Regions from separate parts of the Homo sapiens genome. Here region 2 is linked to region 1. The links come from fine-mapping of genetic effects on gene expression. A gene starts in region 1. The other region holds a variant in brackets. All regions are shown on one strand. Distances are from middle to middle.

Region 1 (5,350 bases):
AAACCTGGAGTTGAGGGAGAAATAAGTGGCACAGCCCAAGGAACCATTTTATTCCAAACACTTTGCTGAGTTACTGAAACCCTGCATTTCCACTTTTCCACCGACTGTCCTGTCCTATTCCTACAGCTGGTGTGTCAGCCAGAGCAGGGACAGTTCCATCCATTCCAACATTTAATGAGAGTCTGCCCTATAATGAAGCCATACAGATGAATAAGACACTGCTCTAGCCTTGAACAGTTCGGTCTAGGATAAATAATAATGATACAATGTAACATATTAGGCTAGAACATAATATGTTATAAATGCTGCAAAGGACTACATCAGATAATGGGGAGCACAGCTAACCAATGGAGAAAATAAGAAGAGAAAGGGAGGATCTCAAGGCAGACAAGGGGAAATAGATAAGCAAAGACTTTGACAGATATGAAAACTCAGTAGCAACCTTTTTTTCCGACGTGTATACAGCTAGAACCATTATGAGTCACTTTGTAAGTCAGGAATTCCCAGCCCATGTCTCCACTTCCATAACTCAGCAATCTTTCAGTGTTCATGAGGGAGAGAAGGGGAAAAGGGTAGTGCTAGGAATAGACAGGGACAGGGTTGGAAAGTCCACATTAAATCACAGGCGAGGACCCTGAGCCATTCAGACAAGTTCCTCTGGGTGAGGAATTCAAAGGTAAGAAAAAATATCAGACCACCAAGAGACCCACAGAGATCACCTGGTCTGAATCCCTTCCTCCACATTCCAAGATAGAAAGAAAAATGGAAGAGAAGGCTTTCAGGAAAAAGGAAGAAAAAGAGGAATGCGTTGACGAGGGTACCAAAAGCTGATAAGTCAAGCAATAATCACAGGCTGATCCACAGTGAGGTACACGCAGGGTTTTGCTTCAGGTAACACCTGAAGCCAAGTTTTGCTTATCACATGCCTCCCCTGCCTCCAGTCCCCAAAGCCAACCTCCACCCCTACCCCATGCAGGTCTTACCTGACCAATGCCATGCCATAGAGCAGTCTAAGTTCATCAGTGCCCAAGCCACCAGTTACATCCAAGAGCTTACAGCGTATCAGGTCAGCAGTAGAAGCCACTGCCAGAGGGAGTTCGTTGCCTGACCTAAAGGGTCACAGTCCAGCACCATCATAAAGAGCCCTTACACTGGTCCACCCTCCACCTCAGAACCTAGGTTGTTGCAGGCTACACCCATCATATTCTGGTTCAAGAGAGCATGAACAGACACAAAACAAGAAGGTGGGAGGAGACACGGTAATGTCTGTGGGATCCAACAGTATACAGGGCATGAGGAGCTGACTAGGCCGTATACAGGACACCTAACTGGTAGACTGTCCATCAACAGTTGTGTGGACACACCCCTTTCTTTCACCCCCAAATCAACTCATTGAGCTAGAGGAGCCCCTTATCCCTTGTAAGTCGGCTCCCAACTCAATCTTACCAACTGGACTGAGGCGCCCCACTCAAACACTGTCTTGCAGGCAAGACTTCCTCCCCATTGGAATCGGAAATCTACCCTAGGGTACTAATCTACTCCTTAAGCCCTGGCTCAGGCCTCACTAGTCCCTCCGGCATCCTCTCCAAGTTGGGAGAAAGTCACTTTTTGGAGGTAATGGGTAAACCTCACAGATATAACAAGAGAATTGTTGAGGCACAACCCCTTACTTTCCATTCCGCTAACGGGATTAGCGCAAGAGATGGCTGCCGCGTTCCCCCAGGCATTTGGGAGAGGGACAACTTTAGGCGACTTAGGGGAAGACTGGAGAACAGGGCCTTATAGAAACTCGACAAAGGAAGAGGTGCAGCGCCACCAGCACGCAGGCAAAAGGGCCGAACCCGCCACCTTACCTGCTCCTCCACACCGTGATGCGGTTAAGCGCGTACCGCTGCAACTTATGGTCGTCACAGAACAGATAAACCGTCACCTGGTCCCACTCGGCCCTGCTGAGCCAGGCGACCACGATGCCGTGGGCCGAGAGTGGCAACGACCCTTTCCCTTTAACGCACTTTCCGTACCACGCACTCCACACGAGATCCATCCCCTGGGAACCTAGACCTGGCCCGGCCCCGGATTCCCACGACATACTGAGCTCAACAACAGGCTCTGTGCCGCGCCGCTCCGCACAGCCTTCAGCTCAGCGTGCTACCCTCACTCCGAACCGCCACCGCACCAGCAGCCAATAGGAGAGCGTGACCCCATACGCAAGCCCGCCTTCCAGCGTCAGCATGGCCAATCGGAACGTCAGAATTGGGCGCCGACCTAATGACATGCGGGGTTAAAAACTCACCGGCCGGAAGTGTTCTTTTCACAAAGCAAACCCTCCAGGGGCAAGAGTTCAGCCTCTAGGTTCCGCCAATTTCCTGGTTGCTAACCGGCTTCTGTACCAGACCGGAAGCGGTATGTCTTCACTGCAAGAGGAATTTTATTTTGCTCCCCTCGGCGGGTGGCAGCTTGATTGTAGTCATCCAGTGAACTGAAAATGCGATTTTAAGTATATTTTTATTGCCGTGAATCAGGACCTAACCTAGTAAAACACTGGACACTGAAGCAGGGCTACAGAGGAAATATCTCATATCGAAACAGTTACAGTTGGGTTGAAAAAATCTGCTTTTGTGGCAGGTAACCAGGGGCCCTGCCTTTTAAATTAGTACCAGCCTGGCCAGGCGTGGTGGCTCACGCCTGTAATCCCAGCACATTGGGAGGCCCAGGCGGGCGGATCACTTGAGGTCAGGAGTTCCAGACCAGCCTGGCCAAAATGGTGAAACCCGGTCTCTAGTAAAAATACAAAAATTAGCTAAGCATGGTTGCACATGCCTGTAATCCCAGTTACTCAGGAGGCTGAGGCACAAGAATCGCTTGAATCCGGGAGGCGGAGGCTGCAACAAGCCAAGATCGCACCAGTGCACTCCACCCTGGGTGACAGATCGAGACTCTGTCTCAAAAGTAAATTAAATAAATACATACATAAATAAATAAATAAATACCAGCCTAGAGACCTGAGTTTTACTCTAAATTTTGCCACTAACTATGTGGACTTAGACTAGTCTCAGTTTTCCCATCTGTACAGTGAGAGTTGTAGACTGGTCTCTAGGTTCTCTGTCATAGCAGAAAATTGTAGAATTTTACTCTGCCAACATTCCACTGCTATGTTGGTTTCAACATCCACCAAGGTATACTTAGTTTTTCTGCAAAATTCCTTGGTATTTTGGAGTTCTGGGAGAAAAGCGGTATTATGAAGTTCCTCCGATTTTACGAGTTGACTGAAATATGTTTAGGACTATGTCCCAATCCTTCTTGCAGAAGTTATTTTCCAATGTAACACTTGAGAGAGAGAGAGAGAGAACTGTTGCTAACGATCTTAACAGCATTGCTGTGAGTGGCACTTTTACGCTTCACAGCAACAAATCCCAATTCATCCTCTATATGTGCTTCTTTCTCCAGCCAACTTTTCCTAAGATATAGTCTGCCTATAGTTATTTTATTTTTCTTTTTTTCTTTTTCTTTTTTTTTTTGACATGGCGTCTGGCCCAGTCGCCCAGGCTGGAGTGCAGTGGCACAATTCTCGGCTCACTGCAACCTCTACCTCCAGGGTTCAAGTGATTCTCTTGCCTCAGCCTTCCAAGTAGCTGGGATTACAGGCGCCTGCCACTATGCTTGGCTAATTTTTGTATTGTTAGTAGAGACAGGGTTTCACCATGTTGGCCAGGCTGGTCTGGAACTCCTGACCTCAAGTGATCCACCAGCCCAGGCCTCCCAAAGTGCTAGGATTACAGGCATGAGCCACCGTGCCCGGCCTGCCTATGGTTCTTGACTGACAGTTACTCTGTCCCAAGTAGCCATGCCAACCAGTTGGCCAGGTGTCTGCCTGAAACCAGATACCCTTTTTCCTTCAGGATCATGACAGTGTGCTGGCAAAGAAGTCTGGGGAGTGGTTTCTATGACTCCTCAAGATACAGGCCAGTCAGAGGAGCTGCCAGATCTGCGGCAATCATTCACACACATTTTGGGGTTTATAGGCTAAAAATTTTGCATAGTCCTTTTCAGGCAAAGACCCCTATTTATCCCCATTCCATCCACATAAAGCTGAAGTTCTCTCTATTCCGTGTGTTCTAAGAAAACATGACCAAAGCATGTAACAAGAGCATTATGTCTAATATGTGGCAAATGGGGCCTGAGACCTATTGAGAATTAGGAATTAGTGGACGAAGTGTGTCAAATAGTGGTAATTTTGAAGAAGCACTGCGTTAGTTTCCTGTTGTTGCTATAGCAAATTACCACAAACTTGGTGGTTTAAAACAACAGACATTTATTTTCTCGTAGTTCTGGAGGCCAAAAGTTTGATAACAGTATCACTGAGCTGAAATCAAGGTACTGGTAGGTTCATGATTCCTCCAGCTGCTCTAGGGAAGAATACACTCCTTGTCTTTTCTAGTGGCTGCTAGCATTCCTTGGCTTGGAGCACATTATTCCAAACTTCAAGACCAGCATCTTCAAATCTCTCTCTGCTCCATCTTCCCCTCTGTGTTTGTAAAGTCTCCCCCAGCCTCCATTTTAAAAGGATACATGTGGTGGCAGAGTCCACTCAGATAATGCAGGCTAATTTCCACATCTCAAGATCTTTAATTACAATGAAGTCCAATGTTTTTCTTTCTTTTTTCTTTTTCTTTTAACCACATAAAGTAACATTCATAGGTTGTAGGGATTAGGATGTGAGTATCTTTTGGGGGACAATTGTTTCAGCTTACCACAGGGAATATGGATCTGTCCTGGCACATGCTCAAGAATCCTAAGAATCCCTAGGCTTGTGGTGACGTAGGACACTCCTAGCAGTGCCAGTGGGCACGAATTAAATAAAATCTCCAAGTCCAAGGCATTGTCTGTGAAATCCTGAAGTTAATCAAATGTATCTTCAAGCTACTGCTTCCCCTTCATTATTTCACCATTTCCCTCCCCCTCACTTCACCCCAACGTCCACTTTTGTGTATCTAGTTCACCTAGAGCAGTCCTGTGGCCCCGGCTAAGCAAACACCTATATGTTGATGTTCTTCAAGTCTCTAGCTGAGTTTTCTGTGGGACTCCAGACACATTTAATCAACTGTCTGCTGCACTCATGTGATCCCGCAGGCAACCCAATATCAACCTGTCTAAATCTTAAATACTTTCCCCCAAAATCTGTCCCTCCTCCTATATCATTCAATACATGGCAACAGTATTCACAGAGTCATCTGAACCTCAGTACCTGCACTCAGGTAGCTTGGGCTTGAATTGTGTCTTCACCACTTACTATTTGAAACCTTGAGCAAGTTACTTAACTTTTCTATGCCTCGTTTACTTCATCTGTAAA
Region 2 (5,381 bases), 26 kb after region 1:
AATGAGATTGCCCAATTTATACTCTTAATAGGCTATGTAGAAGATGGACTGTTTTCCCACACTGTCACTCACACTAAGTATTAACAAACTTAATAATCTTATAGGTGAAAAGTTGTATCTCACTTTAATTTTAATTTTTCTTTATGAGCAATGATGAGCATCTTTATCAGTAATTCATCTTTCTTACTGTCTACTTACTGTTCATGCCCTTTCCCCATTTTGTATTGTTATTCATCTTAATCTGACTGATTTATATGATCTTTTTGTTATTGAGAAAAGTAGCCCCTCTCTTACTTGTTTTATGTATTATAAAATCTGATACCACTTTGTTGTTAGTGTTTTGACTTTGTCATATATATTTTTGTGATGCAAAAGTTTTAAATATTATGTGAAATGCATCAATATTTTCTTGTATGGCTTTTGGATTTTGTATGACATTTAGAGTTTCTTCACTTAAAGGTTATACAATCTTCTTATACATTCATTAGTCTCTTTCTTTCTTAGCATTTAAATCTTAGATCCATCTGGAATTTTCCCTATTTTATAGTTAACATTTCAAGCTTAGCACCCCTAAATATGCTTATTTCCCTCAGACTAGTGCTTTTCAAATATTTCCACAAAAGGATATCTCAGAGGAGAGGAGTGTCCTTGAAACCCTGGGGATCTGGAGAGATTTGGTGCCAGCCACAGGATCAACATTTTTTTTTCTTTGAGACAGAGTCTTGCTCTGTTGCCCAGGCTGGAGTGCAGTGGCATGATCTCAGCTCACTGAAACCTCTGCCTCCCTGGTTCGAGCGATTCCCCTGCCTCAGCCTCTCGAGCAGCTGGGATTACAGGCACCCACCACCACACCCAGCTAATTTTTGTATTCTTAGTAGAGAAGGAGTTTCACCATGTTGGCCAGGCTGGTCTCGAACTCCTGACCTCAAGTGTTCCACCTGCCTTAGCTTCCCAAAGTGCTGGGATTACAGGCTTGAGCCACCCCGACCGGCCAAGATAAGGAATCTTTAAAAAAAAAAAAAAAATATATATATATATATATATATATATATATATATATATATATATATATATTTGCTCTTGTTACATATTAAAGAATTCCTTAATATGACTAAAAAATCAGTTTTTAAATTTCCCTGGCATAAAACAATCTATGAAGACCGTTTAATAAATTGATGTTTTAGCCAGATGCAGTGGCTCATGCCTGTCATCCCAGCAACTTAGGAGGCTGAGGCAGGAGGTTTGCTTGAGCCCAGGAGTTCTAGACCAGCCCGGGCAACATATGGAAAACTTGTCTCTACAAAAATAAAATAAAATAAAAAATAGCCAGGTGTGGTGGTGCACACCTGCAGTCCTAGCTATTCAGTAGGCTGAGGTGGGAGGACTGCTTAAGCCCAGGATTTTGAGGCTGCAGTGAGCTATGATTGCTCCACTGCACTCCATCCAGCCTGAGCAATAGAGCAAGACCCTGTCTCAAAAAAAAAAAAAAAAAAGAAAGAAAAGAAAAGAAGTTGATGCTTTTATTAACATCAGTAATTTGTGGGGACTGCATGAGAAATTTTCGTTGAAGGTGCCAAGGCCCAGAAACTTCCTTGCAAATCCGTAACTATCAGCCCCTAAGACTGAATTCTTTCAGCTTCTCTCTGAAACCTATCTTTGAGTCAGACTGCTGCCTTAATTAACTTTTTAACTTCCTTTGCTAGACCTTCTAGAAAATTAATTCTTCCTCCTTAATTCTCTTTAGAACTAGCCACTTTCAAAGAGTTGCTCCTGAAATATACAATACATTGTTGTTAACTATCAATTTTAAAAAGTTGCTTCTGACAATAAGCATAGAATTCCATCAATCTCAGGATACACCTGAAGCTTTTCTAAAATAGTTTATCACCAGGCACGGTGGCTCATGCCTGTAATCCCAGCACTTTGGGAGGCTGAGGCAGGTGGGTCACCTGAGGTCAGGAGTTGGAGACCAGCCTGACCAACATGGTGAAACCCCGTCTCTACTAAAAATACAAAATTAGCCAGGCGTGGTGGAGCATGCCTGTAATCCCAGCTACTCAGGAGGCTGAGGCAGGAATATTGCTTGAACCCAGGAGGGAGAGGTTGCAGTGAGCTGAAATCATGCTATTGTACTCCAGCCTTCAGGCAACAAGAGTGAAACTTCATCTCAAAAAAAAAAAATCTTTAAGTCATTTTGTCTGGGTG[C/T]GGTGGCTCACACCTGTAATCCCAGCACTTTGGGAGGCCGAGGGGGCTGGATCACCTGAGGTTAGGAGTTGAAGACCAGCCTGGCCAAGATGGCAAAACCCCGTCTCTACTAAAAACACAAAAATTAGCCAGGTGTGGTGATGGGCACCTGCAATCCCAGCTACTCAGGAGGCTGAGGCTGGAGAATCGCTTGAACCCAGGAGGCAGAGGTCTCAGTGAGCTTACATCACACCACTGCACTCCAGCCTAGGCGACAAGAGCAAAACTCCATCTCAAAAAATAAAATAAAATAAAATAAAATAAAATAAAATAAAATAAAATAAAAAGAATTTCTTTTGTGGGAAACAAACAAACACCTAGCTTTTTCATAGATTTTCCTAATCTAAGCTGAGGTTCATGTCTCCTGGGGGAAAATTAAACAAAACGAGGAACAGAAGGCTGAGTGAAGGATCCTGGCAGAAGTGGCAGTGAAGCTGGCCTCTTTGGGATCCAACTTTAATCACCCAAAGAAAGGCTACATGGTTGATAGGGCACATCTATGTTCCATCGCCTTGGAACACAGATATTCAGGGGGCATGGACTGGGATTAATCACAATCTAATTCCAATTTCAACTAGGCATAGAGAAGAATTTCTCTGGTAAATGTTTGAGAAAATAGAAATGGCACAGTAGCGCATGCCTGTAATCCCAGCAGTTTGGACAAGGCAGGAGGATTGCTTGAGTTCAGGAATTTGAGATCAGCCTGGGCAACACAATTAGACCTTATCTCTATTTTTTAAAAGTAATATTAATATGCCGGGCACGGTGGCTCATGCCTGTAAACCCAGCATTTTGGGAGGCTGAGGCGGGCGGATCACCTGAGGTCGGGAGTTCGAGACCAGCCTGACCAACATGGAGAAACCTCGTCTCTACTAAAAATACAAAATTATCCAGGCATGGTGGTGCATTCCTGTAATCCCAGCTACTTGGGAGGCTGAGGCAGGAGAATCACTTGAATCCGGAAGGCGGCAGTTTCGGTGAGCTGAGATCGTGCCATTGCACTCCAGCCTGGGCAACAAAAGCGAAAGTCCATCTCTAAATAAATAAATAAATAAATAAATAAATAAATAAATAGAGAAAATAGTAAGATTGATATCCATCTTCCTAGTCTTCAGGAGGATATTCCTCCCTTGCCTGTACACGCCTTTCCCCTACACATACACTCTGAGCTGAAGCATCTTATCCATCTGTCAGAGGCTGGTTCAAGTTGTAGGCTTGAAGGCTGGGATTTGAGTCTTGACCTAGGCGAAAACAAGGACCAGGGCCTGGCCAGGAAAGGATCAAAAGGATACTGTTCACAACAACCCTTCCTATGAGTAGTGGGCATTTTATCCAACAAAACCTGTTCATGTTCACATTTGTTTTGTTTTGTTTTGTTTTGTTTTTTTGAGATGGAGTCTTTCTTTGTCGCCCAGGCTGGAGTGCAGTGACGTGATCTCAATTCACTGCGACCTCCGCCTCCCAGCTTCAAGTGATTCTCCTGCCTCAGCCTCCCAGTAGCTAGGATTACAGGTGTGCACCACCATGTCTGGCTAATTTTTTTTTATTTTTAATAGAGATGGGGTTTCACCATGTTGGCCAGGCTGGTCTTGAACTCCTGACCTCAGGTGATCCGCTCGCCTCGGCCTCCCAAAGTGCTGGAATTACAGGCGTGTGTCACCATGGCTGGCCATGTTCATACTCTTTCTTCTTTTTTAATTTTCTTCTTCTTCTTATACTTTAAGTTCTGGAGTATATGTGCAGAACTTGCAGGTTTGTTACATAGGTATACATGTGCCATGGTGGTTTGCTGCACCCATCAACCTGTCATCTACATTAGGTATCTCTCCTAGTGCTATCCCTCCTCTAGCCCCCTACCCCCTGACAGGCCCCAGTGTGTGATGTTCCCCACCCTGTGTCCATGTGTTCTCATTGTTCAACTCCCACTTATGAGTGAGAACGTGAGGTGTTTGGTTTTATGTTCTTGTGTTAGTTTGGTAAGAATGATGGTTTCCAGCTTCATCCATGTCCCTGCAAAGGACTTGAACTCATCCTTTTTTATGGCTGCATAGTATTCCATGGTGTATGTGTGCCACATTTTCTTTATCTAGTCTATCATTGATGGACATTTGGGTTGGTTCCAAGTCTTTGCTATTGTGAACAGTGCCACAATAAACATACATGTGCATGTGTCTTTATAGTAGAATGATTCATAAACCTCTTGGTATATACTCAGTAATGGGATTGCTGGGTCAAATGGTATTTCTGTTTCTAGATCTTTGAGGAATCGCCACACTGTCTTCCACAATGTTTGAACTAACTTGCACTCCCACCAGCAGTGTAAAAGCATTCCTATTTCTCCACATCCTCTCCAGCATCTGTTGTTTCCTGACATTTTAATGATCCCCTTTCTAACTGGCATAAGATGATATCTCATTGTGATTTTGATTTACATTTCTCTAATGACCAGTGATGATGACCCTTTTTTTTCATGTTTGTTGGCTGTATAAATGTCTTCTTTTGCTGGGTGTGGTGGCTCACGCCTGTAATCCCAGCACTTTGGGAGCCTGAGGTGGGTGGATCACGAGGTCAGGAGTTCAAGACCAGCCTGGCCAAGATGCTGAAACCGCGTCTCTACTAAAAATACAAAAATTAGCCAGGCATGGTGGCAGGCACCTCTAATCCCCACTACTTGGGAGGCTGAGGTAGGAGAATCACTTGAACCCTGGGTGGGTGGAGGTTGCAGTGAGCCAAGATTGCACCACTGCATTCCAGCCTGGGTGACAGAGTGACACTCCATCTCAAAAAATAAATAAATAAAATAAAATAAAATAAAAATAAATGTCTTCTTTTGAGAAATGTCTGTTCATATCCTTCGCCCACTTTTTGTTGGGGTTGTTTGTTTTTTTTCTTGTAAATTTGTTTAAGTTCTTTGTAGATTCTGGATATTAGCCTTTGTCAGATGGATAGATTGCAAAAATTTTCTCCCATTCTGTAGGTTGCCTGTTCACTCTGATGATAGTTTCTTTTGCTGTGCAGAAGCTCTTTAGTTTAATTACATCCCATTTGTCAATTTTGGCTTTTGTTGCCATTGCTTTTGATGTTTTAGTCATGAAGTTTTTGTCCATGCCTGTGTCCTGAATGGTATTGCCTTGGAT

What was found.
Region 2: its variant is fine-mapped to the expression of LAS1L in lung (TOPMed, PIP 0.91).

Annotation. Positions count from the first base shown.
Region 1 is chrX:65,532,627-65,537,976 of GRCh38, forward strand. It overlaps LAS1L (LAS1 like ribosome biogenesis factor), which reads right to left and starts at 2,161. Exons shown (of 14, transcript NM_031206.7): 1 at 1,854-2,161; 2 at 984-1,109; 3 at 1-4. The coding sequence starts at 2,089. RefSeq lists an enhancer at 2,256-2,435.
Region 2 is chrX:65,558,784-65,564,164 of GRCh38, forward strand. No RefSeq gene overlaps it. Among named protein-coding and RNA genes, the nearest start is that of LAS1L, 27 kb to the left of the region's middle. The variant C/T (reference allele first, on the strand shown) is at 2,206.